Regions from separate parts of the Homo sapiens genome. Here regions 2, 3 and 4 are each linked to region 1. The links come from fine-mapping of genetic effects on gene expression. A gene starts in region 1. Each other region holds a variant in brackets. All regions are shown on one strand. Distances are from middle to middle. Region 1 holds the start of LINC03122 (long intergenic non-protein coding RNA 3122). Region 2 overlaps LINC03122 (long intergenic non-protein coding RNA 3122). Region 3 has its middle 42 kb from the start of LINC03122. Region 4 holds the start of LOC105378995 (a long non-coding RNA gene).

Evidence for each region.
Region 2: its variant is fine-mapped to the expression of LINC03122 in hypothalamus (GTEx, PIP 0.94).
Region 3: its variant is fine-mapped to the expression of LINC03122 in blood mononuclear cells (TOPMed, PIP above 0.99).
Region 4: its variant is fine-mapped to the expression of LINC03122 in substantia nigra (GTEx, PIP 0.97).

What each region holds. Positions count from the first base shown.
Region 1 is chr5:61,633,255-61,641,361 of GRCh38, forward strand. LINC03122 (long intergenic non-protein coding RNA 3122) reads left to right here and starts at 4,527. Exons shown (of 2, transcript NR_126525.1): 1 at 4,527-4,592.
Region 2 is chr5:61,671,857-61,679,963 of GRCh38, forward strand. All of the region lies in intron 1 of LINC03122 (long intergenic non-protein coding RNA 3122), which reads left to right. LINC03152 (long intergenic non-protein coding RNA 3152) reads right to left here. Exons shown (of 8, transcript NR_109910.1): 6 at 5,767-5,835. Among named protein-coding and RNA genes, the nearest start is that of LINC03152, 23 kb to the right of the region's middle. RefSeq lists an enhancer at 1,105-1,605. The variant G/A (reference allele first, on the strand shown) is at 4,095.
Region 3 is chr5:61,591,865-61,599,971 of GRCh38, forward strand. No RefSeq gene overlaps it. Among named protein-coding and RNA genes, the nearest start is that of LINC03122, 42 kb to the right of the region's middle. The variant T/C (reference allele first, on the strand shown) is at 3,824.
Region 4 is chr5:61,778,759-61,786,865 of GRCh38, forward strand. It overlaps LOC105378995 (a long non-coding RNA gene), which reads right to left and starts at 5,968. Exons shown (of 5, transcript XR_948369.1): 1 at 5,718-5,968; 2 at 2,805-3,026. The variant T/C (reference allele first, on the strand shown) is at 4,439.

The DNA.
Region 1 (8,107 bases):
AACTTATAGATGATTCTGGCCTTTGGTTCTTCTCTCTTTTCTCTCTTTGGTTTGGCCATTTCACTGTTTATTAGCAGCTCCACCGAGGGTGGGAAATAGAAATGGACCTCAAATGAGGCAGGGTAACATCTGTGAGTAGGTCTGCTTAGAAGCTTGATGAGGGGGAACAGAGATTTTAATTGTAATTGCAGAAATTATAGAATTCGCTTCACTGTGCTGTCTAGGCCCACTTTTATATGGCAAATCCCAGCCTTATAACAAGAACAGACCACTCTCCCTACCCATAGTTCAACAATTGGCAGCAATGATTCAGTGGAAAAATTGGAACTTTAAAAATGCTTTATTCTTTCACTCAAGTATACTTATTGCTTTATATGCTTCTTATTCGCATGGTCATCTGGTAAACCTGGTTGTGAAATGGGGACAGAAATTTATCACTGCATGTACGTAGGAACATGGGCAGGTGTGACTTTCATGTTTAAGGAAGTTTTTGTGGTCTACTCTTCTAGTTAGTTATAATATATTATATAACAAAACATATCTCCTGTTCCTGTCACTTGGTATAATAAATATGTTGGTGAAATTTCTTGCAGAGTTTGATTACTCAGTCAAAACCTAAGTATCCTGTTGGGAGAAGAACACTCATTTTAGTGGCACTGTTCTATTCTTTGGATGAATTGAATAGTTACTAATCCAGCCACAGAAGAAAGACACAGGTAATTGCAATTGAGCAAACATACAGAACCCCACAAAAAAAAAGACTCACGAGAAGTGTAAAATTTCCCATCAAACATCCATCCATCTCTATTTTCTCCATTCCTTAGAATAGTCATTGTAGCCATAGGAAATAACTCGGGACCAGGTCTACACTAGGAGGAAAAATGTCATTCCTCATTCAAGCACTCTGGAAATGAGTTTAAAAAGACACAGTCTGCCCATGGTCAATGTGAGGTCAAAAACTCTAGTAGCCAATTTGAATTTTCTTTTAAGAAAATGTAACACACCACCTACTACCCCGCTTTTTACTGTGTAACACCACTAGAGTTCTTTAGGTTGTCCGAGGGTAGACAGGGATGTTGATTGGTCAATGTTTTAAATGTAACTTGTTTAAATTAACAGCAACTATTTTCTCTCATTTATCTATATCACCAATACCATGAGGCCTCACCCGGGGCCACTGTTGGAAATCAGGTGTTACAATGCAACTGGTGGTTATGGTTTTCATGTGGTCAGGATCCCTTAGACTGGTCGCTGCATGAAGCTCCATGCCTCTTGCTCACTGCTGTTTCTTGGGTGAATAGCACAGTGCTTGGTTATATGTAGGCATGTGAATTGGTGGTCTGGGTTTAAACCATGTTAGGCAACAAATGCTTTTCAATATATGAAATTTTTAGAGCTGGAAATACCTTTGAGAGAATAGAGGTCACTATACATTTTCTGTCTAGCAGCAATTCTCCCAATTTTCCTTCCACACAGAATTGTGATTTTGTTCTGTTTTCTTCCGCTTTTGTACTCCCAGGAGAGGCTGAAACATCACCTCTTGAGGGTCTCCTTTCTGGTGATTTATTCAGATATTGGCACATGTGACTCAATAATGGCCAATACTATGTGAAGGGACATCTTCTGGGGAGTCTTCCTCCTTTTCTTCCGGATTCTTTGTGTCTGAATGTGATGCCTGGAGATGCAACAGCAGTCTCACTACCAGCACGAGGATGAAGCTGATACCCAGGTATGGCGAGAGAGAGAGAAAGATAGAAAGAACCCAGGTTCTTGATGACGTTGTTGAGCCACCCAATCAGTCAACCCCTAAGCTTCCCTGCTGCTCTACTTTCTGTTATACAGGATAGGACGTTTCCTTAAATGTTTAAACCACTTTGAATCAGGGTTTCTGTTGCCTCATGGCCCAAAGCATCTGAAGCGATGGAGAGAATTTTAAGTCCAATTTCTCATTTCACAGAAGATGTAACAGAGTGTGCTCAATGTTATGTTGCAGGTGACAGCAGAACACAGGAATAGAGAGGCTGAATCTTCTGCTTTAGAGCCATTTTTAGTCAGATGCTGCCCCTCTTACAATTTACTTAATTATAAATTAAAGATGGTTTAAGAGTGTATCTCTCAAGTCACTGTCCTTGTATTTGACAAAATTTCCTGGCCAGGGTTAAAGTCTGGAATTCTAATCCAAATTTTCCTCATTTGGACATGCTGAATCAAACTGGCCACTACAGAGACAAAGAGTATGCTTGTTGACTTTGAAAAACTAAAAACGCTTTGTTCCTAATGACTAGGGAGCAGTGACCTGGGAGACTTGATCTGTTTGGTAACTGTGGGCGAGAAAGACGAAATATATCTCTTTGGGTCAAGACTTAGCATTTGTAAAGTAAGGAAGACCACAGGATGTTATTCAAAGCCTTTGCCAAGGCTTTGGTTGGAAGATTTAATGGAATCCACAGGCAGAGAATAGGGTGAGGGTAGGAGGTGGGGATACAGGTTAGGAAGGTTGGTTTATCCTTTCTGTTCCCAGGGGCATTTCTTCTATCAGGTCATTCCCTCAGCTGCAAGGCCTCCTGTTTGCCTCTAATGCTACTTCCAATCTGTCCATGCTGCAGGGCCCAGGTTATACTATATTGCCTCTATCAAGTCTTCCCGGATCACTTTAGCATGCACCAGTAACTCATTTTCAGAACTCACTCATTTCCTGAACTCTTTACTCATTCATTAAACATGTCATGTTACAGAATATTTCTCTTCTGGTATTTCACTCATTTTGCTCCTAAATTTTATCTTGAGGAAGCAGATCAGAAAAAAAGAAACGACATAGACTTTAAGGGCACATTGACTTCACTTGAATCCTGCTCTAGGGCCCCTGCCTTGCAGAACTCCAGGGGCCAGTTAGATAGCATGCAGTCCTGACTGGTTCTACCACTCTGGAGCAACTGTCTATGACCACCTCAAATCCATTGTGGAATGCAAATGGGGCATACTGTATTAGTTTCTATTGCTGTTCCAACAAATGACTACAAACTCAGTGGCTTAAAATAACACAAATGTATAACTGCTATAGTTTAATATCCCCTCCAAAACTTAGGTTGAAATTTAGTTGCCATTGTAACAATGTTGAAACATGGTCTTACAGGAGGTGATTAGGTCATGAGGGCTCTGCCCTCATGAATGGATCAAGGCTGTTAATCACAGGAGTGTGTTAGTTATCAAAGGAGTGGGCTCCACATAGAAGAATGAAGTTCTGGTTCCCTTCCTCTCTCTCTCTCGCATGCTCTCTTGTCAGGTAATGCCTTCTGCATGTTATGACACAGCAAGAAGGCCCTCACCAGATGCAGCCCCTTGATCTTGCACTTCCCAGCCTCCAGATCCATAAGACAAATAAACTTCTGTTATTTATAAGTTACCTAGCCTGTGGTATTCTGTTACAGCAGCAGAAAATGGACCAAGATATCTTACAGTTTTGGAGGCCAGAAGTTCACAGTGGGTTATCAGGGCAGGGCGTCTTCAGGAGGCTTGGGGTGGAGGGGGAGGAATCTGTTTTCTTGCCTTTTCCAGCTTCTAGAGGGTGCATGCATTCCTTGACTCATGACCCGACATCACTCCAATTTCTGTTTCCATTGTCACATCCCTGTCATTCTCACTCTTATCTTCCTATCTACCCCCTTATTAAAGACCATGGCAATTACACTGGGCCCACTCAGAAAGTCGATAGTAACATCCCCACTGCAAAACCTTTCATCACCTCTTCAAAGCCCCTTTTGCCATTTGAGGTAACCTATTCACAGCCTTCAGAATTTTTGAAGGAGGGGAGGCATCATTCTGCCTGCTATATACATAGTCTTTGGATCTCAGTTTCCACATCTGTAAAATGGAGAACTACTGTCTTCCCCACAGGGCTATTGAGATGATTGAATGAAGTAATTTCTGCTTATGAATTCCCAGCTCTGTGCCTGCCATGGAGGCAGGCAATTCTGATCCATGTTCTCTTCTGAGTGGGTTGTCAGCTGGAGGCCTTCTACTTCTTTCTAATCCATTAGCTTCTTGCTAGTGCTGCGTCCCCAGGAGGAAATCAGTAAATGCAAGAAATAATTACCTTGACAATGCCTTGCACATAGTAAGTACCCTAAAATAATTCATTGAATTGTTTGTTATTTTGGTGTTAATGGATGGGGATCATCTGATTAAATGTTATTATTTATTAGATCTAAAATATAAATTTGGATTCTTCTGTTGCACTTTTACCTAATTACTCTAAACACCAGTGGGAGAGAGGAATTAGTCACAATACAACTTAAAGAAAAAAATATCTTGCTGTCACTGACTTCTCTCCTTGGTCTGAAAACTTTCTGATTTTGTAGGATGCCACTGACTGCTCTTTCTGCAACTGAAAAATCTCTCAAAGGGCCCTGTCCAGTTAGGTCACACAAAGCCAGGCTGATTATTTAGAGAGAACACAATGCTCCCTCACATGGGGCACAGAGAGGAAGGAATTTTTTTTTTAAGCCAATTCCAGTCCCTGGAGCTGCAAACTGCCCTCAGGGCAAAGAAGCCTGCAGAATAATTGGGAGGAGTCTGGCAGGAAGGAAGCCAAGGTAAGTTAAGCTGCATTTCTGTCTATAGCCAGGGTCTCCATGCCACTTTTTAAACATCCCCTTCTGGGATAAACCTGTATGTCAAGATAAACAATTAAATAATATGCAAGGGCCAAATCAGGAAAACTGCAGCTTCAGCCCTAGAAAACAATGCCAAGAAACACCAGCCTGTCTGCCGCTGCTAAGTCGAGGAGATGGGTTCCCATGATTCCGTAAGAGAACTGGGTCAGGGAGGAGACACTGTCTGTTTAGAATATGCTTCAGGCCCCTAAACTTGGTCGGTTTATGCTTTTTCAGGTTAATAAAGTGGAAAATAACTTTACCTCATCCCTCTATCAAAGCATAGTGCGGCTGCCCCAGAGACCCCTAATACAGCCAGGGATGATGTGTTTGGAAAATGGGGCAAGAGAGGGTCCAAAGATGAGACCCCAAAACTGTGAGGGGGAGGTTGTGTGAGGAGGACAGACCAGAGCTGGAGGGGGACTGTGAGAAGAGGAGTCTGGTTGCTGCCGTCTCTGAAGGGTCTTCCTAGGCTCCCACACCATCATGTCTTGGCCAGCCAAGGCCAAGTGGTTGTGTAAACTTAGGATGGTCATAGAATCCTGAACTACTAGCACATGGGGGTTGAGCTTGTCTGAGGATCTTTTTGAGGAAATGGGGGAAGTATTATTCATGTAATGTGTGACCAGAGTATAGAAATCATGATCCCAGCAGATGGCATGAACGGACACTGAATAGTCCGAATGTCTCATCTCTCTGGACAGAGCAGGCTGGTGGGATCTGGGCAGTCGGGCTGGCTGAGGAGGCATATTTCAGAGTCCAGAGCGAATCCCAGCAGTAATGCCTGGGAACAAAGCCAACTGGTGCCCAGGGCAAGCAGCCCAGTTCTGGGGTCAGGCTACCAAGGTTGTACCAGGCAAGAGAAGAAGGGTGAGCAGGGGAATATTCAAGAGCATCCAAGAATGCAGGGAGCTAATGAGCATGGGAGTGCAGAACTGAGGTCAGAAGGCGTGGCCAATGGAAACTCCCAGCAGCCCTGTGCAGGGGCTCTGCGGATACCTGCTAGCTCTTGGGGCTTAAGCACGCAGTTCGGGACTGGCAGCTCAAAAATGTCTTGAGCAGATTGGCCCCTCAGATAAAGTGGGACACACAGTCTTTTTTTTTTTTTTTTTTTTTTTGAGACGGAGTCTCGCTCTGTCGCCCAGCCTGGAGTGCAGTGGCGCGATCTCTGCTCACTGCAAGCTCCGCCTCCCGGGTTCACGCTATTCTCCTGCCTCAGCCTCCCGAGTAGCTGGGACTACAGGCGCCCGCCACCATGCCCGGCTAATTTTTTTGTATTTGTAGTAGAGACAGGGTTTCACCATGTTAGCCAGGATGGTCTTGATCTCCTGACCTCGAGATCAGCCCTCCTCGGCCTCCCAAAGTGCTGGGATTACAGGCTTGAGCCCGGTTGGGACACGCAGTCTTTAAGAAGTACTTAGGAAGGGCAGTCAGGCTAAGCAGTGGGCTGTACTTTGGGACCCTTTTGCCACAGAACAGAGGGCAGCCTCTGAGTCTGGCCGTGTGTCGTAATTCCTGTGTTGGAACAGCCCCACCCTAATGAGGGCATTTAGATATTTACTTCCATCTACACTCTCCTTGGGTAGGGCGGCAGCAGAAATAACTGGCTTTGAGGCCTCCACCTTGCAGGGTCCCCTTTTTCACTACTAACGCTACCTCTCAGGGCATCCCAAATTCATGGGAATCCCATTCTGAGAAGCCCCAGTATAGGTCTGGATGTTGGATAAGAACCAAGGGCGGTGTGATGCTTATACACTGGGACAGAGTAGGCCTGCCTGATTTAGCAAATAAAACCACAAGATGCTCAGTTAAATTTGAATTTCCAAAAAGCAAAGAGTAAATTTTTTAGTACATGTCTATCCCCAACACTGCAGGGACATACTTATATTGCAAATGATTTGTTCTTTGTAATGAAATTCAAGTTTAACTGGGAATCCTGTATTTTGCAGGCCACCGTATTACAGAGGCCCATATGGAACCAGCTGGTCTGAGACAAGCCCAGGTTCTGGGCCAAAGCAAAACAGGCAGGTGTTTGCTCAACCTCTGCTAAAGGTCTATTTTTAAGGCTAGATGCTGAATTAGGAGAAGAAGCTTATGAATTGAATAAAATACTATTTGCCATCAAAACCCCTTTGAATTTTAGCTAGTAATTCACCCATAAAGTGCCACCCACCAGGGAGCCTCATACGGTTTCATAAATACATATGAGAGCTGCTGTGGAGAGAGATGGAGCCCGACGCAGGCACCGGACACAACATCCCACAGCTTCCCCATGGCTTTCAGAAAGCTTGCAGATATTTCTCTCTTCTGTTCTGAACTCTCCACAGAGAAATCTGTCAAGGGAGAAAGCAATGACTTTGCTCTCACTGGGCCAGAAATTCCATGGCTGAAATGACCCAGGGGTAGCAGGCGGGTTTGACAATCTGTCAGTTTCTGGATAGTGTTACTCGTCAGTCACTCATTTTTGCTAAATTGCAGAAACTCTTTTCTTTAAATGAAACTTTATTTGCTCATGATGCAGGTTAAGCCCAGTTTCTGGCATGTGTCCAGGGAATTGGGTGTGCCACCCTGTCCACTTGGTCATGGGGAAACCGTTAAGTCAGCCTTCAGTCTGGACATCTCTGCTCAAGGCTTTAGTTAATTTTTCTTCCCATCTGAGACTTAACCGCTGGGACTGTTTTACATATGAAGATAAGAAAACAACCGAAACTTGATTTTGCTCTATGGAGATAAAAATAAGGTAGCATTTTATTCAAGAAGAATGTGTGTAATAACAGTAATCTGAAAATAATGATATCTATAAGGTCTTTGGCAAAGCCACCCAGGAAAAGAAAAACAATAGATGTGAAAGCTTCAGTGAGTCATAACACCACCTTTCAGCATCAAAATGCCCTGGAATCAGATTCAGATAAACTGGTTTCATCAGCTCTAGACTCAGCTGTATGCGTCCCTTTTTATTCCTTGTGCCGATTGCACATTCTCCAGATAATGGCAAGGTATTGGCTCTCCTTCAAAACACTCAATTGTGCAGCAGAGGAAAGAAAAGGATTCCTTGTAAGCTTTTTCATGTCTAAACACAAAAATAGCTCTCTTCCTGGGCCTGCCCAGTGGGCTTCCTTTCCCTCTGGACATCTACAGAGTACTGCTGACTGGACTAGTGTTCATCAAAGGTGGTCTGTGGACCACGTGTATTCGAATAGTTTAAAAGCTTATTTAAAATGCAGATTTCTGGGACTCACTGGAGACCTAGTGAATCTGATCTCCTAGGTAGAGCCAAGGACTGTGCATTTTTAACGGCTCCACACCCCAAGGATTCTAAGGCATCCTAGGGTTTAGGGGCCACTGGGTTTGTCCAGCCATACAGCCCTCACCTTATCCTGCTGCCTGCGTTGTCACTTGGCTTCCTACATTTGAGTGTCTCTTCTTCCCAGTGCAATTCTAAGCACAAGGGATGC
Region 2 (8,107 bases), 39 kb after region 1:
GTTGGAGTGCAGTGGCACAATCTTGGCTCACTGCAACCTCTGCCTTCTGAGTTCAAGCAATTCTCCTGCCTCAGCCTCCCAAGTAGCTGGGATTACAGGCAGCCACCACCACGCCCAGCTAAATTTTTGGATTTTTAGTAGAGAAAGGGTTTCACCATGTTGGCCAGGCTGGTTTCAAACTCCTGACCTCAAGTGATCCACCCGCCTTGGCCTCCCAAAGTGCTAGGATTACAGGTGTTAGCCACCATGCCTGGCCAGTTTTTTTTTTTTTTGTTTTTTAATGACTGTAAAATGAAAGCATAATTGGAAAAAATTCAATGAATTTAAATTGAATAAAGTTAAAATAACCAAGGAAACCAAAACTGTTAATACTACTACAGAAAGTCTTTTGATCATGTAAACATTATTTAAGTAAGGAGTTGATCACCATAGTTATTTTAACAGAGATAATTTAATAAAGGGGATTATTAGGCTAGTATTAGGACTGAAAAGGCAAAAAAGGAACCTTGAGGCATCTCAGTGACGGTAACTGCAGGGAGCAGCTACCACCCCAAGGGCTGAGGAAACAAAGCAAGAGACTGGGGTTAATAGAACCTAGATGCTTAGGGGAAGGGCCCAGCAAAGCTGGAACACAGGTCTCTGGTGGAGGGTGTTCCCAGGCTGATGCGGACTCTCAGCAGCTTGAGGAGGGATCACATAGAGCTGGGACTCAGAGCTCTTAAGAGGGGACACTGCCCAACTGGTTTTGTACCCTTGGAATTTGGAGAAGAGACTTGGCAGAGCTGGGACCCAGAATGTAGAGTGGGGCTTCCTCCCAGGTGGTCCTGAACTGTAAGCAACCCACTAAACACTGCAGCACTATGGATAAAATGGAAAAAAATGCCTGCAGGATGTGCCTTGGAACCTGGGGCTTGTGGTCTTTTGTTGGATCCAACCAGGATGAAGCATGTTTTGATATGGGCAGGTAAAAAAGGGGCATGAAGTTAGTGAATCAGAGCCTTTGCAAGTGTGTACATTTACGTGTGTCTTTTCTCTGTGTTCGGCATTTTCCTTTGCATGATTTTATTCTCATTCTTTCATGCTGAAAATGCTTGCGTGTGTGTGTGTGTGTGTGTGTGTGAGAGAGAGAGAGAGAGAGAGAGAGAATATCATAGTGAGTGCAAGCCAGTGGTGGTCATAAAATGGTAATCTTAGCAGGTGTGTACAGCTGGCCCTGCCCAGCGATCTGCAGCAGATTTCATTTCCTCATAGCTCATCTGGCTGGTTGATCTCCTTTTGCCCTTTCCTGCTGTGAGAATTCATGGCCAGCCTGAAGCCAACCTCCTGGCTTCTGTGGAGTGCTGACTCCTCCACTTCCCTGCTTAGTCACTCTGAGGTGGAACAGGATCCCACTTGCTAAGCTAGTGGCTGCTTCTGCTGAATGCCAATCTGAAGGGGCGATCAACCCCTTTGAACTCCCTCTGGCTATTGAGTCTGCCATTGTTCAGACCCTGCAGTGTGCATGGACTGGTGACAAAGCCCGGGTGAGGAAGCAAGAGATGACAACCGGAGGGGAACAGGGGAGGGCAGGAAGGCCTTTGACTTGGCCTGGACACCTGGCGATGCTTTATTGCCCCAGACAGACTCTCCTGCTCCAAGATCCAGCCCAGGGGCTGTGAAGGTCACTCGGCGCTCGCCGCCCATGGGAAGGAAGTGTTTCCTTGGGCAGCAGAGCCAGGCTCCTTAATGACTGCTTCAGCTGAGCATTTCTACTTGGAAAGGAGAGCAAATGTTCCTTTGCCCTTGCCACCCTGCTTAGTTGCAGCTTAGGCCTCTCAAGAGGGAACATAAATATTAGGGAAGTTGGGTCACCTACCAGTGGTTTGGGCTAAGAAAACATTTTTTTCTTCTCAGGAAAATGAATAAAACCACATGATGGAAAATGCTAGAAATAGAGGAAAGGGAACAACAGCTTTAAAAAATCTGAGTAACCTGTAATAATCACTAATAGCATTTGAAGGTGTTTTTACCCACCCCTCCCCTGTGCAAATAGTTCATTCATTCATTCATTCTCTAAGTGTCAGTTGAGTGCCTACCATTGCCACTTGCTGGAGATAGGACCCTGAACAAAATAGATCAAAAGTCTAGCTCCTAGGAGCTTCTATTCTTGGTAGGGGAAGAGGGGCACATCTTGCATTCAGTTTCTTTTCCTGTTGTCATTTGTCAGTCAATCTCAGCAGCACTTCCCTTGTCATTGCATTGTCTTCATACCCATTATTCTGATGATTGCTTGTTTTTCCGAGTGAATGGCTCAGACTCCACTTAACCATGTCACTACTGTCCAGTGGTTTCCATCTGCACAGTTTTAAATAATGCTGTGGTTAGTATATTTGTGCAGGCAGATTTTAAAAAATAGATTTTTGGGGTAATTTCCTCTCTGGCTATATCTTACACAGTATCAGGTAGGACTCTTGGTTACAAACAACAGACCCCAAATCTGGTTAACTTAGGCAGAAAGGGAATTTGTTGGAAGGCTATCTATCCAGCAGCCTATGGAATTATCAGAAGGCTGGAGAACCAAGCTCAGAAAAGCATCAGGAACGAGGGTCAGGGGGCAAAAGTACAGCACAGGTCCACGCCCTGTAGAGTCCCTGAGACCTGCTGCAGGCCCCTCCTCACTACCTCCTACTCTCCTTTCAGCTCTTCCAGCTTTCCAAGGAGAAATCTCTCTCCTCCTGAAGCCTCCGTCTTGCATCCTGGAATCTTGAGTTCAGGGTGGAGCACTGGTGGCCGGGTGAAGGTCAGCAGCCTGCTGTTCTGTTTCCAGGGAGTGAGAGGAGGTGTCCTTCCTGGCTCTCCAGAGAGGAAGTGGCTGCTGCCCCTCACCTCAACTTAGGGAGGCTGCTTGGACCCTCAGTAGGAAAGAGGAGAAATATCCACTACAAACACGTTCCTTTTCTTCTTATATATGTGTTTGTTGTGTGTGGGATGACAGAGGGTAGGGACACGGTTAAAGACACATCGAACATCACCTGCCAGAGAGGGGTGTAAACACTTCTCTGCATTGCTAGTAGGGTCCAGGTATTCTCAGCACCTCCAGCAGCCTGGGGGACTCAGCCTCCAGGACTGGAGAAAAGAGGGTGAAATTCACATTGATGATTGCTTTTTGATAGGTAAGAAAACTGGGGCTTAAAAAGGATGTGTGACTTACAGCGGACTATGTTGCCAGCAAACCTGGGCTGCGGGGACTTGAGTCCAGGTCTTCTGAAACACCCGAGGGTTAGTTGGACAAGTATTACTTCCCTGCTCTGGGCTGGTGGCCTATAAGGGGTGCCTGGAGCAATCCTCTTGCTGGGACAAAAGCCCTTTCAACAAAGGGGCCTTTGTAACAAGCCTTTCTTTGTCTGGCCACCAGGCTGTTCCCTGGAGTAATTAAAGCCTGTAGTCCTTAGATATGAGGCTGGCTAACACTGCTTGACAGGAATACAGCAATGTGAGTTTGGGTGCCAATGCTAGATTGGAAATGCATGTCTTCCTGCTCCCAGACACCTAGGCATGAACCACATGGCTAGATGGCCCTGCCCCTCCTCCCTGGCCACTCTGCGTAGAGGAGGACAGCACCCACTGGTCCTACAGGATGGGGGCTAGTGGCACTCTCCTGGGCAGTGCCAGGCAAGTAGACTGTCATGCAGCTTTACTGCTGTGGCCGCATCTCTGGGACCTGCTAGTGGACATCTGGCTTACTACTACTGCTCAGAGGAGAAAGGTCACAGCCTTCCAAGGGTCCTTGGATATCTGGCACTGTGCACCTGCATCTTGTCCACAGTGTCCCCCCTGGGGTGGGGAGGTGCCTCTTTCCTTTGTCTAGGGAGATGGTCTCCCCTGGACTCCCTTGGGGTCTCAGGACACAGCATTAAAATTGGCTTGTGTGTTTAGTCATCTTCTGTGAGGCTGGACCTTTATGCTAAAGGTCCCTCAACTAGTGGAGAAAAGACAAGCTTTACTCTCCCCAGAACTAGGAAGTTAACCTTTTATGAGAGTTGTACTGCTGGGGACCGCGAAGGACACCGGAAATAAACTCCGTCTCTGCTCTCAGAGAACTTTAGATGTCTCTC[G/A]GTGCGGCCACCACTTGGAGGGGAAAAGAGAAACTTCTCTCATTAAAGGCAGTGCCCTGGCTCAGGGCCTTCTCAGGCTGAGAGCTCTGTGGGGCTTTCACTCACCCTGTCCCCTGCAGACACCTGAGGTGCAGCTCACCTGCCAGCGAACGAAGGCATTCCAGGTATAGGTTAAAGTGGAATTTCGGCATTGGCAGAGTTAACATTCATAAATTCAACAACTTGTGTGTGCCCTCAAGGGCCCGTGGCAGGAGACGAGGTTTAATTGTGCTGAGGCACACATTTCCATCACATGGGGTGGGTGGGTCTCTTCACTACTGAGAACTGGGTACCAGGGTTTCAGCAGTTTTGGGCTCTTGGTTCCTCACCACCAAAGGCAGTTTGTGGGGGATCTTTATGTTTCAGCAGTATTTGAGAATCTGGGGAGTCATGAGCGGCTCAGGCTGGGTCTCCTGGTATGCAGGAGGTATCTGGTGGGGAGGGTGCTGGGGTCTGGGAATCCCCCCTCGCCATGCCACTTCCCCTCAAGTCCCCAACCCTCTGGAGCCCTCAGGCTTGGGATCAGGCTTTTTCAGGCTCAGCCCCACCTGCCAACCAGGGGCGGGTGCACCCACCCTCAAGATGCACACAGCTGCATTGTCTGCAGATAATTTAAAACCAATAATAAAATCGACTGTGAGTCAGTTTGCTTTTTCTTATCCCTAGGCCAGTAATTCTAAACAATGTCAGTGATAAAATAATCCTCCCACAAATCTTTTGTTTGTCCATTTTCTAAACAATTGCTGTGGTGACTATTGAATTTTAATTCTATACACTCATATACATCTGTGTGTATGTGTGTGTGTATACATATATACCCATATATATACACACATACATATATATGCTTCAAATTAGCATAGTTAATTACTTATCCTTTTACTAATATTATAGTCTATGTGAAAGTTACTTAGGAGAACTTCCAGTAAGAAAGAACAGTTCAAGATGGTTCGAACTGGCTTCAGGCACAGTTTGTGTCTCCAGCCCCTGTTGTACTAAGTATGCCTGCATTTAAATAATCGATAAAGGATGATAGCACAGTAATTGCAAAGCCAAGACACAAAACCTGAGTTAATTTAATTCTGTCATTCTGCACAACCACTTGGAATTTTAATTTGTGTTTAAAGTTTAGGAAATGCAAATTTTAGTTCATACACGAGATATTTGACTGGATTTGAATAATATCTTGAAAATTAAAATTTATTCTGTTTAAATTATTGTTTTAAAGCTAATGAATGAATCATGAGAGTAATAATAATTAATGATTATTACATGATTCTCACTGAAAATAATTTTGTCCCATAGAGGAGGGTACTAAAAAATGATCAGTTTGGGGAGTCAGATATGTTATCTTGGCCACTGTCCATGGTGATGCAGATGACAGAAATTGTTCCAGTTTATTGAAACAGGAGAGCATTAATAATCAGGTATTAATTGGCCTATGAACATTTTGGAAGTGCTGAACAAGCAGATTCTGGTTTGAGCTTTCAGAAACAATTCCAGTTCCCCAGATGATGCTCTGATATGATTGAGGGAAACTGCATCCCCCACTGTCCGTGGCAGAGCCCACCATTCTGCCATGATCTGAGCTAGCAAAGTAAAGGCCTCGTGCTGTGCCTCCCATCCCACTGACCTGGCTCTCAGTTGAGGTCTCATGCAAGTGGCTCTGATTGGTGGAACCCAATCCCATCAGGAACCCTACCTGCAAAGGAGGAAGAGAAAATTAGTTTTTCATTTTCTGGTGTCTACAGTATAGACTGGTTCCCTGAGGAAGTTAGGAATGGAGGCTGAGCCAGCTGGCCTACAGCATCCTTCACATCTACCCAACCGAGTTTCTACACTTGACCTTTTGGTCTCTAGATGGGGAAGAACCTCCCCTGTCTGGCAGCCAGGTTCTGCCTCATGCTGGCTTCTGGAGAGAATGACTGTCTCTGTAGTGAAGTGTGTCCAGCCCAGCTATTCTTTTCTTTTCTTTTCTTTTCTTTTTTTTGACAGGGTCTCACTCTGTTGCCCAGGCTGGAGTGCAGTGGTGCAATCTCAGCTCACTGCAGCCTTGACCTCCCAGGCTCAAGCGATCCTCCCACCTCAGCCTCCCAAGTAGCTGGCACCACAGGTGCATACCACCACATCTGGCTATTTTTTTTTGTATTTTTTGTAGAGACGGTGTTTCATCATATTGCCTAGGCTGTTCTCAAACTTCTGAGCTCAAGCAATCTACCTGCCTTGGTCTCCTAAAGTGCTGGGCATAACAAGCATGAGCCACCATGCCCAGCCTCAGCTCAGCCATTCTTATGCTGCCTCTTACCATACCCCCACCTTCCCACACCCCATGGAACTTCTCTGCCTAGGCTCTCCAACTTGGAATCTTCTGCTGGTGCATTGTGAGTAATAGCTCCAAATCTTCTCTCCCTCAGCACACAACCATCTCTTGAGTAAAGGCTGCTTCAAAACTCCCACAGCTTTTCATAATGCCACCCCTAAACTCTGCCCCCAACTAAAGTGCATGAATCTTTATCATTATTCTTTAATAGTAACTTTTTGGGGGATTCTTCTCAATACATATTTGCAGACTAAATATAACTCTTGTCCTCAGGATTTTTCACCATCATTCTCATAACATTAAAAAGATTCTAATTTGCATCTAAACTTGGGTCCCTAAATCTCAGCCCTCCTGTCCCTTGTAGGGACAGTGGGTGTTTGTGGTGATGTTGGGACTGAGGAGTAGGTTCCACAATGACTAGGCTAGAGGGTGACTCTTCAGAGAGAGGCAGGATGCAACCTTGGCAGGGAAGTGCCAGGTGAGGCCCAGGGAGGTTTGAGCCCTAAGTCTGTCCTGTGGCCCAGGACACAGGGCCCACATCAAAGACTGAAGCTGCTTACAAGGTAGGAGGAAAGAACATGCAATGACCTGAAACTGAAGAGGCTGGATTTCTTTCTGTCAGAGGCTCTTAATAGCTGTGTGACCATAGACCAGTCACTTCACCTCTCTAGGGAAGAAGGTTACTTCCAATGAAGATGGTTATTTACTTGTGAAGTAGTGGGACTAGGAAAATGGGTGGCACAGAAGGAAGGAGGAAGCAGGGTTTATGACGCTGGCATATCTCTCTCTGGACTGCCTCTGGAGGAAAGCCCTGAGACAGCACAGATTCCCCGCATGGAAGGCTATGCCTTGCTCTACCCCACCCTGCCCTCCGCCACCAACAGGGCACTCAGAGGAAATACATCCAGAATCCTGAGCTCCAACATGGAGCAAAACCAAGGATGGAAGTGGGCCTGGCAATATCTGGGCTAGAAGTCATATTTCCTCATTTTCTTTTGAACATGGAACCCTTTTCCCGAAAGGCTTTGTTCTCTTCAAAGCACAGTTTCCCAGTGTCTGTCCTGCAGGGACACTTTCATCACACACACACACACACACACACACACGTATCTATAAAATTGATTTAATTTCTTCCTGGGTTCTCATTTACCAAAATAACAAACCAACTAGGAAGTCTCTCTAAAGGAGAACATGGTCAAGATCAGACTCTTCTCTAAAGATACAGCTAATTCCAGCCAGCACATTAACATTCTAAAGTTAAAAGTGCATTGTGAAATGTAAATCGATGTGACATTGTCAAACAAAATGACCTGTGGGCTTGGGAGGTTGGTGCTTGTAGGAAGAGGCCGAAGTGTGCATCTTAATCTTGATTTCCTTTGGGAATATTTCCTCCACTGTGTTCCTGACTCTGATTATGTTCTTGTGCGATCAAAATAGCTCTAGTCTCCAGGGCTGGACAGTTCCTTTTTCTTTCTTTCTTTTCTATTCTTTCTCTCTCTCACACTCTTTTTTTCCCCACAGGACAAATTATTGTTGTTTTGATCAGTGACAACTGTTTGATTTTTTAGCTATTAGTATATACATGTGCACAAAATCCCATCCTATTAGGAAGAAAAGGATTGGATTTAAAGTCCTGCTTGTTGTATAGATTATT
Region 3 (8,107 bases), 41 kb before region 1:
ATAATCTTAATGATGAATTTCACATGGGAGTCACTTGATTTACAGGTGAGGTGTTCCAGTGATTTTATTGCAAACTTCCCCCAATTTAATGCACATGCGCATGCCTGGCATGTGCTGTGGGGCTGCTCAGCAGGGCTGGTAGCTGACCGTTGGCTGGAAGTTCAACGGGGCTGATGGCCCAGAATGTCTGCAGGTGGCCTCCCCATGTGGCTTGGGCTTCTCAGCACATGGCAACTGGGTCCTGAGAGGGGGCATGAGAGAGTGAGTTTCAAGAGACAGGGGTGGAAGTTTGAGATGACGTATGATCTATCCATGGCTGATAGTGAGTGTCATCTCCTTGGCATTCTGTCAGTCAAGCAAGTCACAAAGCCTGGCTGAGATTTTAGTGGAAGAAATAAACTGCAAGAAGAGTAGTGAATTGGGGGCCATCTTTAACACAGTAGGTATTATGAGCCCTATTTGACATATTTTATACCAAATTAACTTGCTTGAAGCAATCTAGTGAGCAAGTGCCAGAACTGAATTGAATTGGAACATAGGTTTGCTGACTCAAAACACAGTATTCTTATACCAGGTCCCTCTTATCTTAGCCAGGTCCCTCTCCTGGCTATCTTGTTTGGCTGTAATTATCTCCCATGGCCCTACTCAAGACAAACAGCATACTTAATCCATACCAGAAGGTCTGCCATTCTAGGTCTCAAATGAAAAAAGAGGGGCAGCCCCTCCTCAGACCCTGAGAGGCTTTGACCCCAATTGCCCCTTTAAGTAGCACCCGTTCTATCTCCATGCCTTCTGGGATACTCCATTGCCAGCCACAGTCCCACATGCTTGAGACAGTAGAGTGAGGGACAGAACAGAAGAAAATGGTGAAGGATGCTGGGAAACTCCTTCTTGCTGGGAACCTTGTCCTTGGAAGGGGTTGGGGTGTAGAGGATGGGCATCTACAGGGTGTTGCTGAAAAACTGTCAGGGGGCACTTCATGTTGGTGCCGTGGTCAATGGCCAGAAGTCCCCTCTTATCAATGGCCAGATGCCAACTCATTGATGATACAGGACAGGGGCTGCCATCTTGAATCTCTTGGGCAATGCTTGGCTGAGCCTTCCCCTGATGCCTTTAGGATTGCATTCATCCACTGAGTGCAGGCTTTGGGGCCCATGAGTGGCCCAGGGGTGAGGCAGAGGTGGCCTCTGGCTGCTTGGTTCTGCCTTCTCCACTGTTGTCTCATCACTCCCATGTTGCTCCTTTCTTCTTCCTCTGAGCCCCTTGAGTGGTCTCCCTCCCGCTTTGTCCCATCACTCTAAAGTTAAGATTTGAGGAATGGCTGAATGAGTCAGTGTTCTCCAGAGAAACAACCAACAGGATGTACACACAGAAAAAGATTTATTCTAAGGAATTGGCTCAAATGATTATTAATGGCAAGCCCCAATATCTGTAGGGTAAGTTAGCAGGCTAGAGACCTGGGAGAGCTGATGGTGTAGTTCCAAACCAAGTTGGAGGCCCTGAAAACCAGGAGAGCCAATGTTTCCATTTCAGTCTGAAGGCAGGAACAATTCTCCCTTACTCAGAGGAGAGTCAGCCTTTTTGTTCTATTCAGGCACTCAACTGATTGGTGGAGTGCCCCCCAATTCCCCACGTTGGGGAGGACACTCTGCTTTACTCAGTCTGCAGATTCAAATGTTAGTCTTATGCAGAAGCACCCTCATAGACACACCTAGAACTGTGCTTGGCCAAATGTCTGGACACACTGTGGCCCAGTCAAGTTGACACATAAAGTTCAGTATCACAATAGTCACCATGTGCATCTTTGCTGGAAGTGGAGCCTGGGGTGGAGAAATGTTCCTATAAAGCACAAGGAGAAAACCAAGGCCCCTGGGCTGGCAGGTGAACCATCAGCACTGGTTGCTGTAAAATTACAAGGGACTCTCCAAATCTTTCCCCCAGTGATTCTATTTTGCCTTCAGCACAAAATCACGTCTTTGCCTCCCAAAACGTCTCATTGCCTCTTCTGTGTTCAGCTTGTCTCTGACCACTTTTACTGCCCTGCTCCACCATCCTTCTATACCCACCTACTCTCAGCTCCTGACTGTGCTGGGTGTATTCACACCTCCAGGCCTTTGAATGTGCTGTTCTCTCTGCCTGGAACACCCTTACCTACCTTCTCCACCTGGCAACCTGTATTTGTCTTTCAAGATTTAGCTTAAGTATTATTAAATGAGTTAATAATTATAATGCATCCAGAACCTGGCACAGGCACTGTTTAAATGTTTGAAACTATGAGTATTGGTATTCAGATTTATATCACCTTATTCATTCATTCAGTTAACAAATATGTGTCAGGTGCTATACTAGGTGCTGAGATACAGGAGTCAAGGTGTACATGGTTCTATGGAGCATGTATTTCAAGAGAGGAGACAGACAAAAATCCAAGTAAAGAGACAAATACATAAAATACATTAAAACTGTGGCAATATGAAGAAAGAAACCAACAAGCAATATATACAGAAAATAATGAAAGTGGCTCTCCTTTGATAGGTCGTTGAGGATGATCTGATTAACACATTTGGGCCAAGACATGACAGATGAGAAGGAAAAAGTCACACCCATAAGGATCGGGGGACAGTTATCTAGAGAGAGAAATGGCAGGGCAGAGGCCCTGAGTGTAGCCTGGGTGTTTGAAGAACTGATGAAAGGCATAAGGAACCAGAACAGAACATGCGGGTGAAAGGACAAGGACAAGGTTGGAGAAAGCTGGGTCTGCCTTCTCTAACTTCCCAGGTGTGCCTTTACCACTGACTTCACAGGGGCTGTCAGCCTGGCTTTGCACTGGCCTGGAGACTCCCTGAGGGCACAGACTGTCTGTCTCAGAACTGAGAGCAGGCTTGGCAACTAGAAGACACTCAGTCAATTTTGCTAAAGGACTTAACACAGTCTTTGACTTTTAGCTATGCCAGGTGTGCTCCCCAAGGAAACTGAGCCCTGGAGGATGGAGACTCTGTCTACACGCCTCTTCATCTCTGCATCTCTGGCTCCCAGCCTGAGCCGCGACATAGTAGATACTCATTAACACCTGCTGTTCGCATGAGTAAATTTTACTTTATTTGGCTCCTTCATGGCTTCCAGAGCAGAGCTGGGCAGAGTTGATGACCAACAAGTACTTTCTATATGATGAATGGTCCACAGTGAGTTGGGCTTAAGCTTTACTTCTGGAGGAGAATGTGACAGAACGGAACAGGAGAGAAGGCCAAGGGCATGAAGGATGGCAAGGTTTCCCATGAAGGTAGATGGCAGCTTCATATTTATGAAAAGTTATGCACTGAGCTGTCACCCCAACTATGCAGATAACATTTATGCTTCTGTTTTCAGGACTCGTCTGTTATGCTTTTCAATGATTAGCCATTCTTATACTTGGGCTAGCTCTGCCCCCTCCCTCTCCCCATTTTATTCATGTATGTGTGTATCTGATTCTAAGTGAATGGAGCGTAAGTTTCCCTTTGAGGATTTTTTTTTCTTTTGGAATTATGTAGTTTTATAAGTATATTGTCTTTACTTCTGCATTAAACTAGTTTACTAAACTGTTTCTGGAAAACAAAACCACAACTTTGGTTTGTTTCACAGTTCATTTAAACAACAGCATTTGTTGCTCCCATTTAAGCAAAAAGGGAATATTTAGTCTCTTTTTTAGGCTGGCAGCTCAGCAAATTACAGAAGGATGGTTTGCTGTGGTTTTGGGTTTCTCTTTAAGTTCCTGATTGAGGCACAGATGTTGGAAAATGGTGGGGAGGGGGGTCCCTAAATATGGGGGGAGTGGTAGGAGGTTTCTGAA[T/C]GGCAGGAAGCAGGCTGCTTGGCTTGAAGGACAGCAGAGGAGGAGACCTAAAGGGAATCAACAGAAGCAGCAAAATTCTGTGGCCCTTCATGGCAACACAAAAGCTTCAGGGTCAAGAGGCAGAGAAAGCATTTTTAAAAATATGATCTGTGAGTATAATGACTGTAAGTTAGCTGTTTGAAACTTGAGATGGTTTAGGGCTATATTGTTATTTATTTATTTCTCCATATTTTTCCAGGAAGAATTTTGAAATATTTAGCTGCTCATCACCTGCTGAGGAACTTTAAAGAATCGATGTGTGGTCTAACTCCAAGGTCCTGATGCCCTTGGTCTGTGGTGTCATTTGGACATCAGGATTTTTAAAAGCTCCTCAGATGATTTTGAAGTGCAGGCAATTTCAAGGTCACTGATTTAAGTGACATATAAAACCAGATACAATGCAAAAAAGGCAAAATAGAATCAGTAATAAATGGATGAAGAAATTAAGACAGTGGAGAAATGCAGGTAGAAAAGAGAAGTGGAAGCCAGCGGTGAGGTGATAATATCGAGTTTTAGGTCCATATGATGAATGAGAAGAAGGTTCTCAGGAGAAGTCTCACAGTCTCTGGTCCTGAGACCATAGAGAAAGTTATCTGGTTATTCACCATAAAAAGTGAATTGTGTACAGTTTAGCAAAGATCTTTAAGGATAGAAGTCTACCACCTTCAGTTCTGACAGCATGAAGCTCTCCCAGGTGCATAATGGACTTTGAGTTTTTAAATCAATTGGGTACACAAAAGAAGGTGCTTTGACATATGCTGGCCATGCTGTGAAAATCTCAGGGGAAAGTAGGGCTTTAGATACTGACCCGGATTTGAGCAGCTAACAACCTTCTTTACCAAACTTGCAGCTTGGGATAATCATGTTCCAAGATTTAAAGATGGAATATAGTGTGTTAGTGAGGAATTTGACTTCCTGTGTACCACTTACCTATTATGTGATCCTGGCCATGATAGTTAACATTTCTGAGTCTCAGTTATTTAATTTCTAAAGTGGATATAATCATGGTAACTATGATAATAACATTATTTTGATGTTTAAGGGAGATAAACCATGTAAATAATATGGAATAATCTCAGCATGTAGAAAATGTCCAGAAATGCTACCTATTATGAATACTGTCATCTTCCCTCACTGATCTGGCTAAACTCAGGTTTTCTCATACAGGATTTTCTCAAAGCAAAGAGTAATTAAAATGTTATTTAAATTTCATACAATCCTAACTGGACTCCCCTGGTTTATTCAGGTGGCCTGGGGTGAAACCTGGACATTGGTTTGTTAAAAAACAAAAAAACTAAAAACAAAACTCTCCAGATGATTCTGAAGTGCAGCGCAGGCTGAGAAGCAGTCTTGGCATCTGATTTTATTTTAGCTGCTCTCCTAATAGCTTCCAGCTGCCCCTTCAGCAATCTAGTCTTCAGGCTTATCTGAGACCCACTTCACAACTGCTCAGATTCTAGACAACTGCCTTTTGCTTTCACAGTTTTTGTTTTTCTTGTCCAAGGTAAACATGGATTATTACTTTTATTTAATTGTTTTTTTAATTATCATTTTTTTCTAATTATAAGAATCCATGTTAACTTTGGTTCCCTACCCAGAGATAAATACTGCAACGAGTATGTTACATTTTCATCTAATCTTTGGTTTGCACCAATGTTGTAAAAATGCAAGTTTTAAAATTGCAGAATTGATTTTGAAATCTGCTTTTTTTGCTTAACTTTTTATCAGAAGCAAAGTCTCATATGCTAAGGATTTTTGAAAGCATAATGATTTTTTCTTGTTCATGATTCTGACGTCTCTCATTGTATTTTACCATTTCTTTATTATCAGTTGTATTAGCTCCCTAGGGCTGCTGTAACAAAGCACCACAGACTGGGTAGCTTAAAGCCACAGAAATTTATTCCCACTGTCCTGGAGGCTGGAAGTCCAAAATCAAGGTGTAGGCAGGCTTGGTTCCTTCCAGAAGCTCTGAGGGAGAATCTGTTCCATGCTGCTCTCTTAGCTTCTGACAGTGCCTGACAATCTTTGGTTCCTTGACTTGTAGAAACATCACTGTAATATCTGTTTCTGTCTTCCTATGGTGTTCTCTCTGTTTCCTGCTGTGTTTCTATGTCCAAATTTCCTTCTTCTTATAAGGACACCAGTCACTGGATTAGGATTCACTTTAATATAGTATGACCTCATCTTAACTTGATGACATCTGTAAAGACTGTTTCTAAAGAAGGCCACATTCACAGGTTCTAGGGGTTAGGACTTGAACATATTGTTTCAGGGGACATAATTTAATCCAAGGGCATCAGCCAACTATTATGTCCACCCATCTTTTTAAGGAACCAGAAAAGTTTTAAAGCTTCTTGTTATTTCTATGTGTCAGCTCTCTATAATCTCCCATCCAGCTGCGAGTTCAGACAGGTGCTGAAAAAGCCAGGCCAAGGACAAAAATGGAGGGGAGGTCAATTTCTGTCCTCTCCAGACACCCACCTTCCTTGGGCAAGCAGGGAGAGGCAAGCTCTGTGGGGGTGGCCCTAGGGAAGTGCAGGAGGGGACAGATAAGGAAGGGATGAAAGCCACAGGTGGTGGCGGGAGCAGGGCTGAGGGCTTCCTGCAGCTGCTCAGCCACCTGGCTAGACAGTTGTTCTCCCTATCGGGGAGCTATGTAAGGCAAGGACTGCTTGACTTATCACAGCCTTGCTTAGGATGCCAAAATGCCTGGTCAAACCTGTCAATTCACTTCAGCAACTGTTCTCAGGGCTGGGGAGAGTGGGATTGGAGGTGTAGAATCACCAAACTGGTTGTTTATAGTGACTGCCTTCTTTAGACAAGAATTGACCCAAGTGTACCAAATGTTACTGATTCAGCTGGGATGGTTTAGTGCAGGGGTCACTTACAACAGCCTGCAGCCCAAATCTGGTCTGCTGCCTGCTTTGTACAGGGAGCTAAGAAAGATTTTTTTACACATGAACATTTGCAATTATTTGGTCATAGGGAACACTAACTTTGAACCCCAAATAAGCAAAATGTTATCCCCACAAATGAATTTCATGTTTCTCATTATTAGACCTGTATTATAAAAAAATCATACTCAATGATTATTATCATATTTTGAATTTCATCAATAAAATTTTGTGAGAATTGGTTTTCTATCTTGTCAGGTAAGTACCTAAATTATAGCTTCAATTTTACTTCTTGGCTTGCAAGTCTACAATTTAATCCCTGGTCTAGTCAGGTAGCCTCAAACACCAACAACACACACCAGAGAACGCTGAAAGGCTCTTAGAAACACAGATTGCTGGGCCCCAGCCCTGGGGTTTCTGATTCAGTAAGTCTGGGGTGGGACCCAGGAATGTCCATTTCTAGCAAGTTTCTAGATGCTGTGGATGCTGCTGGTTGGGAGCCACATTTTGAGAACCTCTGGTTTAGTCAATCGATCAGTTAACAAACATTGCTCTAAGAAGCAACATCTCGTAGTGTTCACAAGACTAGATGCGAGAATCAGAACGGCATCATTTCTCGATTCTGCCACTAACTAACTCTGTGATCTTGGGCATGTTATTTATGTTTCCTGAGCCTTCTCGTTTCCTCGTTTGTAAAATGGGGATAATGCAAGTTGCCTACCTCACAAGGGTTGTAAAGATTTAAATGAAATCAAGCTTGTAAAGCTGTTCACACACATTGGCTAGTTTTCAAACCCCTGCCCTCAGACAAACTTACAATTTGGGGCTGTGGAAATGAGACTAACTTTAGTGAACAGTACCGAGTGCTGAGGGCTGTGAACAGGAAGCTCAGAGGAACAGTCCTGCAGAGCTTCCTGTAGGAAGTGAGGGATGAGCTGAGCATATGAGAGGGATGGGAAAGCAAGTGGGACAATTTGTGAGACTTGGAGATGGAAATGAGATTGGCATGCTTTTTGGACAGAGGATTTCAGACTGCCCGGTGGGTAGGAAGAGCTGCCAAGTGGTATGGGAGGCAGAGGAATAGTTGTGCCAGCTTCTGGAGGTCCAGTGAGAGTTTCACGGTGCAGATGCAGTGTGTGTGGGCAAGACTTTGGAGTCCTAAAAACTGCTCTTGGGATTTCATTAAAACTTGGGAGGTTGGGGAAGCTGAAATGCCCTATTTCTCAAACCCCAGCTCCACTTCTTGGGGCTGCTCAGTGGGCGGGCCTCATCCCCATGTCTCCATTCTGTTTACCCCACATGCATTCCTGTTGTTTGGTTAGAGCTGCTGCCTGGCAGAGAAGCTTGGGAA
Region 4 (8,107 bases), 150 kb after region 1:
ATGAAGAAAAATAAAACTAAAACAACAACAACAGAAAACACTGATCACCTCTTCTCAAGTGGGGAAAAAAAGAATTGTAAGCAGATTCAAGATACCAGGCTGGAATTGGGTCCTAGGTTGATGGATTCTGCAGTCTCTGGCAGCCTGGATTGCTTGGATTGATGGACACACTCCTGAAGCCAAGTTCAAAGAGAGTGTGCCTATTTATCCTTTGTGATCTGCTGAATTGGATGAAATGAAAATATTCAGGGATTTTTTTTTTCTCTGTGGCAAGGGAGAATTCCTTGGCTGCAGGAATACTGTCTGCAAGTTGAGGAAATTTGGGTGTCAGGAAGAGGCAGGTTTAAATAGTCTGACTTTAGCCATAGGTTTGCCCTGTGGGCGATAAGAGTTGCATATGGGAAAATTGCTAAGCTTTTGCACCCAGGTAGTGTTGTATTTCAACAAAATTTAAGAGTCTTCTAGTGTGGGTGGCATCACTTTGCACAACCCTGTTGCTGTTTTCTGGGCAGCTGTGGCTGCACCAGATAAGTAGCATTCCTGGTCCCTGCTCTGTTACATGAAGGAATTCGGGGAGATGCCCCCAGCACACTCTTCTGTATGTGTAGGATGAATCTGGGGGCTGGAGCAGAAATAGGGGCTGACTGTTACATACTTAAAATGAGGTAGAGAAAATTGCATTAACCAGAATTCCTCTGAAAGAGAGCCCTGAATATATCTGGATAAAGAAATACTTCAGCAAGTCATTTGGGGTGGAGGGTGAAACCCAAGAGTATATTCAAGTTTAAAAAGTTATTATTAAACTGCTCTGCATGAGGTAAGGAGAGGAATTTGTCACACTCTTAAAAGGGAGAGGAAAGAAAGAGAGTGAGGGGAAATGGCGGTGGGAGGCGGCAAGAGAGAGACCAGCAAGTGGTAAAATCGTGTACTCTGTGTGAGGTGAGCCACTCTACATGGTCCTGCCCTCCCATTCTTAAATAAAGTGACAAAGCTCACAAAATGCTGGGTGTGAATGGAGGTTTGTGGAACCCCCTGAAGGAGCTAAGGTTAGTGTCTGGCTGCTGTAGATGAAATAGAGGTAGCATACATGATTGCAAGCATCAGAGAGGAGGACCCCATAGGGATATTGGCCCTGGACAGTTGCAGAAACCACAGCAAGAACTTTGGACATTAACGGGTGATGGAACTGGCTGTGAATCAAGTTTATCTTGTTATCCCAAAGGTCGGGGTGGGAGGCAGCTGAATTCCAGGTAATATGTGGATAACCTTGAAGCAACCAGAATATCTAAAGATGTCTGCTGCTTCTGTGTTTTCCATGAGAAATGTTATCTAAAGTATAATGAAATCTTATAGAATCAAATATAATGACTACTTATAGAAACCAAGATATTATTTAAACAGAAAGCAAGTATAATTTCCTGTTTAGTTAGGCTGACCACTATCCAGGTAAACAGACAGCATCCAAGGCATTATGGGAGAAGCAATTCCATCCAGGCCCACTCCATCGGATAGAGAGTTTGTTTCTGGTATTTAGGGCAATTTCCAAGTAAAAGTAAATAACCCTATAGGATGTTCTAAATGATGCACTCTCTGCAATGAAACAATGTTTTTTCCCCAAAATAAATAGTCTACTAACAACTAAATGTAATAATAATCTTGTTTGGATCTTGTTTCACATTATCAACTATATACGTATATATACATATATATTTTTTTTTGAGAGGAGGGAAATTTGAATTGGGAATAAAACAAGCAAGAAATTATTGTCAACTTTGATAGGCATGATGATGGCATCATGGTTATGTAAGAGAGTGTTTATATTTTAAAAGATGCATACTTAAATACCTTTATTTAAGAGATGCAGGGTAAGATGACACAATACCCAAGATTAGCTTTAAAACACTTCGGCAAGAGAGAGAGAGAAAAAAAAGAGAGAGAAAATGGATTCAGCAAGAGGATCAAAGCCACAACAATTGTTGAATCTGGTGGATGAACATAAGGGGGCTTACTGTACTATTCTGTCTACTTTGTGCATATCTGGAATTTTCACTAACAAATTTAAAAAACAGTTCAAACAAAATAAAATTGGGCCCTCACAGTTTTCAGTGCCTTGAATATCCCAAGGGAGCTAACTTTCACCTCCTTTTACTCTTCCTTATATCTAAGGCTTAGGAGACGGTCATCATCTGTCTACCACAGATACATCACCTGTTTTCAAGTTAAAAAAAAATTTGGAAGGTGTTGTGGGATGAACTTGTCCCTCCAAAATCCGTATGTTGCAGTCTCAACCCCTAACACCTCAGAATGTGACTATATTTGGAGATACTGTCTTTAAAGAGGTAATTAAGATAAAATGAGGTCACATGGCTGGGGGCTAATTCATGTGACTGTATTTGAGTACAGGGTCTTCAGAAAGGTGATTAAGTTAAACCGAGGCTATTAAGATGGACCCTAATCCAATACGACTGGTGTCCTTTTAAGGAGGAGAGATGCCAGGGCACGTGTACACAGAGGGATGACTGTATGAAGAGGGAGCAAGAGGATGGCCGTCTGCCAGCCAAAGAAAGAGGCCTCAGCAGAGGAAACAAAACCAACCCTGCCGGCGCCTTGGTCTTGGACTCCCAGCCTCCAGAACTGTGAAAAAAATGCATTCCTGTTGATTAAGCCACCGGTCTATGGTATTTTTTTTATGGCAGCCCTTGTGAACTAGTTCTGAAGGGAATTGAACTGATAATGGATTTGCCTCAGTGGAGCTGCCTGAATGAATTCCAGGCTATTCTCTCTTCTCCCAAAAAGAAACTCACAAAAAGAAGAGGATTCCATCTTCTTTTCTCCCTTCCTTTCTTTGCTCCTGCTACAATCTCCTTCACATTGCCCGCATTCTGGTTCTGGTGCTGTTACATCTGCCAAAATACCAGGAAAAACACCACCTCCTGATTCGAGCTTTTGAATCTTCTGAGCCTACTCTGGTTTTTCAGTCCACGTCCTGATCTTTCCTTGTCTTCTTTGGACACAAATAATGAACCCTTGAAAAGGATAAAAAAAAGTTTTAAAAAGTGAACCATTCATGGAATTAGAATATAGTGGTAGCCTATAATTCTACTTTTCATCCCTCTTGAAAGAGAAACATTGTCCTAATACTTAAAGTATTTATTATATCTTAAAGGAAGGCTCTTATTTCTGGTTCAGAGATTCAATGTGGCAGTTATAATTATGTTCTGGATACAACATTGTTAAAAATTTGGATTTTCAAGCTAAAAATGATTTTTAAGTATGTAATTACCTATTAATTCCCCTGAAATTGTGATTTGCCATTTTTTTGTCATAACTCATCTGAAAAAAACTATTTTTAAAGAGAAACTCTGAACTGACACACGAGTGCCTGGGTCTTGGCATTGCTGACTCTGCAACACATGGCGATTTCAGCAGGAACAATAAACTGAAGTCATAACAATGGATAATATTTTAATATAATGGAACATAATCGTTAACTTTGCTCAACAGGAAGGAAATGAATTTTCCTCATTGTACACGAGAAAAGCAGGTATAAGAAACTTTCAAAGGATGTTCTACCCAAACAGAATGGGTTTAAGAACCGTCACAACAATAGCCTTATAGCATCTGGTGTCAGCAAACTGAACAAATGGTGCTTCTGAGGAAAGAATGTGGCTCAGTGTCTCTCAGAAATATATGTAAATGAACTTGAAATTTTAGAGGATGATTAATCCTACCCAGTAAAGTACCTTTCCCACGGGTCTTTCTCAGATCTCAGGTAAATCGTTCTTTTTATCACATTTGTCCACCCCACCCACTCAAAGTGAATATCCTATTAAACCTCCACAAACCTGTTTCAAATTAAAATGGTGCATGGTAATATTAAAGTGTGCATTTATTAAATATTCTGTGTAAGTCATAAGAAATTCAAAATATTTTTATAAGACACCTGCGACTGTGGTGTAAGTTGCTTTTTAGAAGTAATGAATCTTCAAAATTCTCTTTGATACAATTTTGATTTTGTCCTGGTACTTCCTGCTACTGTCCTTCATTGATTCTTACCTTGGCCCACTTCTGGTCATCTCTATTTCTTTTTCATTTTTCTGTCTTTATATTTCTCAGCTTCCCCAATACAAACAACTGTCTAGAATTGATACATCCCAGAATTCTCATCCAAACATTTACATCCAAGTCAGACCAAAAGAGAACAGAGACCAGATTCATTAATTCAGTGATCCAACATCAGTTAAGTAACTAAAAAGAAACCAGACCAATTTTTAACCCACTGGGGCAAAGTGACCAGTTTCTTTGATTTTTCTTTTTTTCAGTTCAGCGTATTTGGAGATCATGGACATGCAGCCACAGTTCTCTGAGGGTCACCACATAGACCTCACACAGTTTGTTTTATCGGTCTATAAGCTGGTGCATATTTCACAGTCATTCA[T/C]TACTATAGAAATGGAAATATGCTACCTGTGCTCCTCCCCCACCATTATACAAGAGCCTGATTACTTGATGTGGATCAAATCACCACCCACTCCCAACGTAACTACTGCAAGTGCTGTAGTCTCATGTGACTGAGCATAAGCCCCTGAGCCGGTGTATGCTCCTTTCCTGAACTGTCAGCCCCCTACAGTGGCTATTATGACAACAGCCCTTGCTGAACCTTGTTTGTAGCTGGCAGGACTGTCTGCAACTTGCATCATTAATAAAAACTTCTTCACACCTCTACAGGTTGTCATCACAGATCAACATTTTCCCACCTACTTTACTCTTCTCCCCTCGGAAAGAAATTTCTTCTGGACACACTTGTACTCTAAGTCCTTGTGAAGCTTTGGCAAACTCTGCAATGGGCCCCCACCTTTCCTCTCCTCAGCCCTTTCCCTCCTGGGGCAGAAAGGACAGAGAAAGCAGGAGGTGGACTCCCCAAGCCACATTCCTGCACTCCTGCCAGCCTGGCTGGTGGTAGCGGTGCTTGGCTTCCCTCCAGCCTAGGGTACTCACTGCCTGGCAATAGAGCAATTTTTGAGGGGCACAGGGTTTTGTGACCAAGAGACAAAAATAAAATTAATCACAACCTTACAAATGGCAAAAAAGAAAAACTGACAGAAATAAACAAACAAACAAAACTCTGGGTTTTTAAAAATGGAAGTCTGGCTTCAGTCTTGAATATTAGGATTCTGATGAATTATGTATGAAATGACATAGTTCATGGAATAGATTTAATATGCCATATTCTTCTTTCCCCTTACCCACCGCTTCCCCTCCCCCATTCCAACAAGGCCTTGAGCTTTATGATGAAAGGTGAAATTGGGTCGGGGTTGGAGGGAACTGAGAAAGAACAGAGAAGCCAATTAAAATCAAAATAAAAATGTCTTCTTATCCTTTCCTCCTCACTTCACTTGACAATTATCTTGCACATATGAAATAGGTCTTCACTTGACCCTTCTCTAACTAACAAGGGCATCATGAGACACCAGAACTTATTTTTTTCTCTATTTGAAGCCTTAATTTTTTTCATTAGTATACTAAATACAGAGAGGTCCTGAGATATAGAAAATGCCAAAAAGCAGGCCGAGCAACTGATGGGTCATGAAGTAAAGGGAGGAACTGAAGTAATTAACTCCACGAAGACAGAGACCATGTTCTTGAAATAATCAGTAAAAGGGACCGTCTCCCAAACCCAGTGTAGATACTCAGTAATAAGAACAGCAAGAAGGACAAACCTAACATGTTGGCTGGTGATGTTCATTCATGCCTCACTTCCGTTCACAGAACTCCCTGGCAGGCATCCATAGTACCATATGCTTTGGAGAAGTGGGAATGCTGATTGTTGTCGTTATGGGGAATTGAGTCTCATTGCTTCATGAGATTCCGGGTGGCAGAAATGTTCTGAGAAAGAACGTGTCCCAATAGGTGTGCCATGGGAATCTTAGCACAGGATAGAACTTCATAGAGGACCTCCTCTAAACTCTCAATTATAAAGGTGAGGAAATGGAGGTCCAGGGAGGCAAAAATGGAGGCTCAGGGAGCTTGCCCAGCGGTCGAAATAACAATGTCGAGCTTAGCGGGAGTGATGGAATTAGGATCTGGAACTCCCGATTCTCACACTCTTTAGGCTGACTCACCACTTTCAAGCTTCAGGCTCCAGGCTCCATACTGTGGCTTTTTTTTATTTTTTAAATATATTTTAGGGGTACAAGTGCAGGTTTCTTTGATGCATATATTGTGTCATGAAGCCTGGCCTTTTAGTGTGTTCATCCCCTGAATAGTGAAGATTGTATCCAATAGGTCATTTTTCAACCCTCACCCTCCTCCTACCGCCCCACCTCTTGGAGTCTCGAACGTCTATTATTCCACTCTGCATATCCATGTATACTTATTGTTTAGCTCCCGCTTATAAGTGAGAACATGCAGTATTTGGCTTTCTGTTTCTGTGTTATTTCCTTGAAGATAATGGCTTCAGTTCCATCCATGTTGCTGCGAAAGACATAATTTCATTCTTTGTTTTTAATGGCTGAGTAGTATTCCATGATGTATACATACCACACGTTCTTTATCCAGTCTTCTATTGATGGACATTTAGGTTGATTCCATACCTTTGCTATTGTAAATAGAACTGCAATAAATATGCGAGTGCAGGTATCTTTTTGATATAATGATTTCTTTTCCTTTGGGTAGATAGCCAGTAGTGAAGTTGCTGAATTGAAGGGCAGTTAGTACTATTTTTAGTTCTTTGAGGACTATCCATACTGTTTTTCATAAAAGTTGTACTAATTTACTTTCCCACTAACAGTATATAAGCGTTCCCCTTTCTCCGTATCCTTGCCAACATCTGTTGTTTTTAGACGTTTTAATAATAGCCATTCTGACTGGTGTGAGATGGTATCTTATTGTGGTTTTGATTTGCATTTCTCTGATAATTAGTGATGCTGAGCACATAATACCTGTGTCTAGTCAGCCATCTTCATCCCTCCCCCATCCTGTGACTTTAATGGCAACCCTGTAGATGCTGATTCTGGTGTCTCCAATATTTTTAGTCATTGAGATATCTAGAATCTTTTTGCTCTCTTAATATCAGACAAATAAAACACAAAGGAAGAAAAAGTATAAAGAAAAGAATGTGAACTTTGGAGTCAAAATAAATTGCAGCTCTTTATAGACAATAGTTTAAACTCTTTGAACCTCAGTTTTCTAATCTGTAAACTGGGAATAATCACTATCGTAATCATAAGGTGTAGAGATGCATGTTTATAGCAGCACAATTCGCAATTGCAAAAATACGGAACCAGCCCAAATGCCCATCAATCAAAGAGTGGATAAAGAAAATGTGGTATATAAATGTATATACCATGGAATACTACTCAGTCATGAAACGGAATGAAATAATGGCATTTGCAGCAACCTTGATGGAATTGGAGACTATTATTCTAAATGAAGTAACTCAGAAATGGAAAACCAAACATCATGTGTTCTCACTTATAAGTGGGAGCTACACTTTGAGGATGCAAAGGTATAAGAATGATACGATGGACTTTGGAGGACTTGGGGAAATGGTGGGACGGAGTGAGGGATAAAAGACTACACATTGGGTACAATGTACGTTGCTCAAGCGATGGGTGCACCAAAATCTCAGAAATCACCTCTAAAGAACTTATTCATGTAATCAAACACCACCTGTTCCCCAAAAGCCTGTTGAAATAAAAAAATTAGAAAGAAAAGAAAAATATTGTGTGTAGAGCACTAAGCATACCAAATAACTAATGGTAGCTGAGCAGGAAATCTCAGAGCAAACCCTGTATCTGAGAGGCTGAGTCAGTAGGACAGAGACCTGAGTCCTCCTCTCACAAGAAAGAGCCCTGTCTCACTGAGGTCCCTTCAACTGCTATCACACCCTGAGCACTTAACATTCTCAGACTGAAGGCACTTCTGTGTGAACACGTGTATTGGAACCATAATGTAACGAGATGATTTACCAAAAAACACCCCAGAGAATCTGTCTCTGAAGTGGCATCTACAGAGAAAGAAAGCGACTTTGTAACATTAAATTGATGCACAGAGTCCTGGAAAAATAAAAAGAGAGAAATAAGCCTGGGACTAACAAAAAATTAAAAGA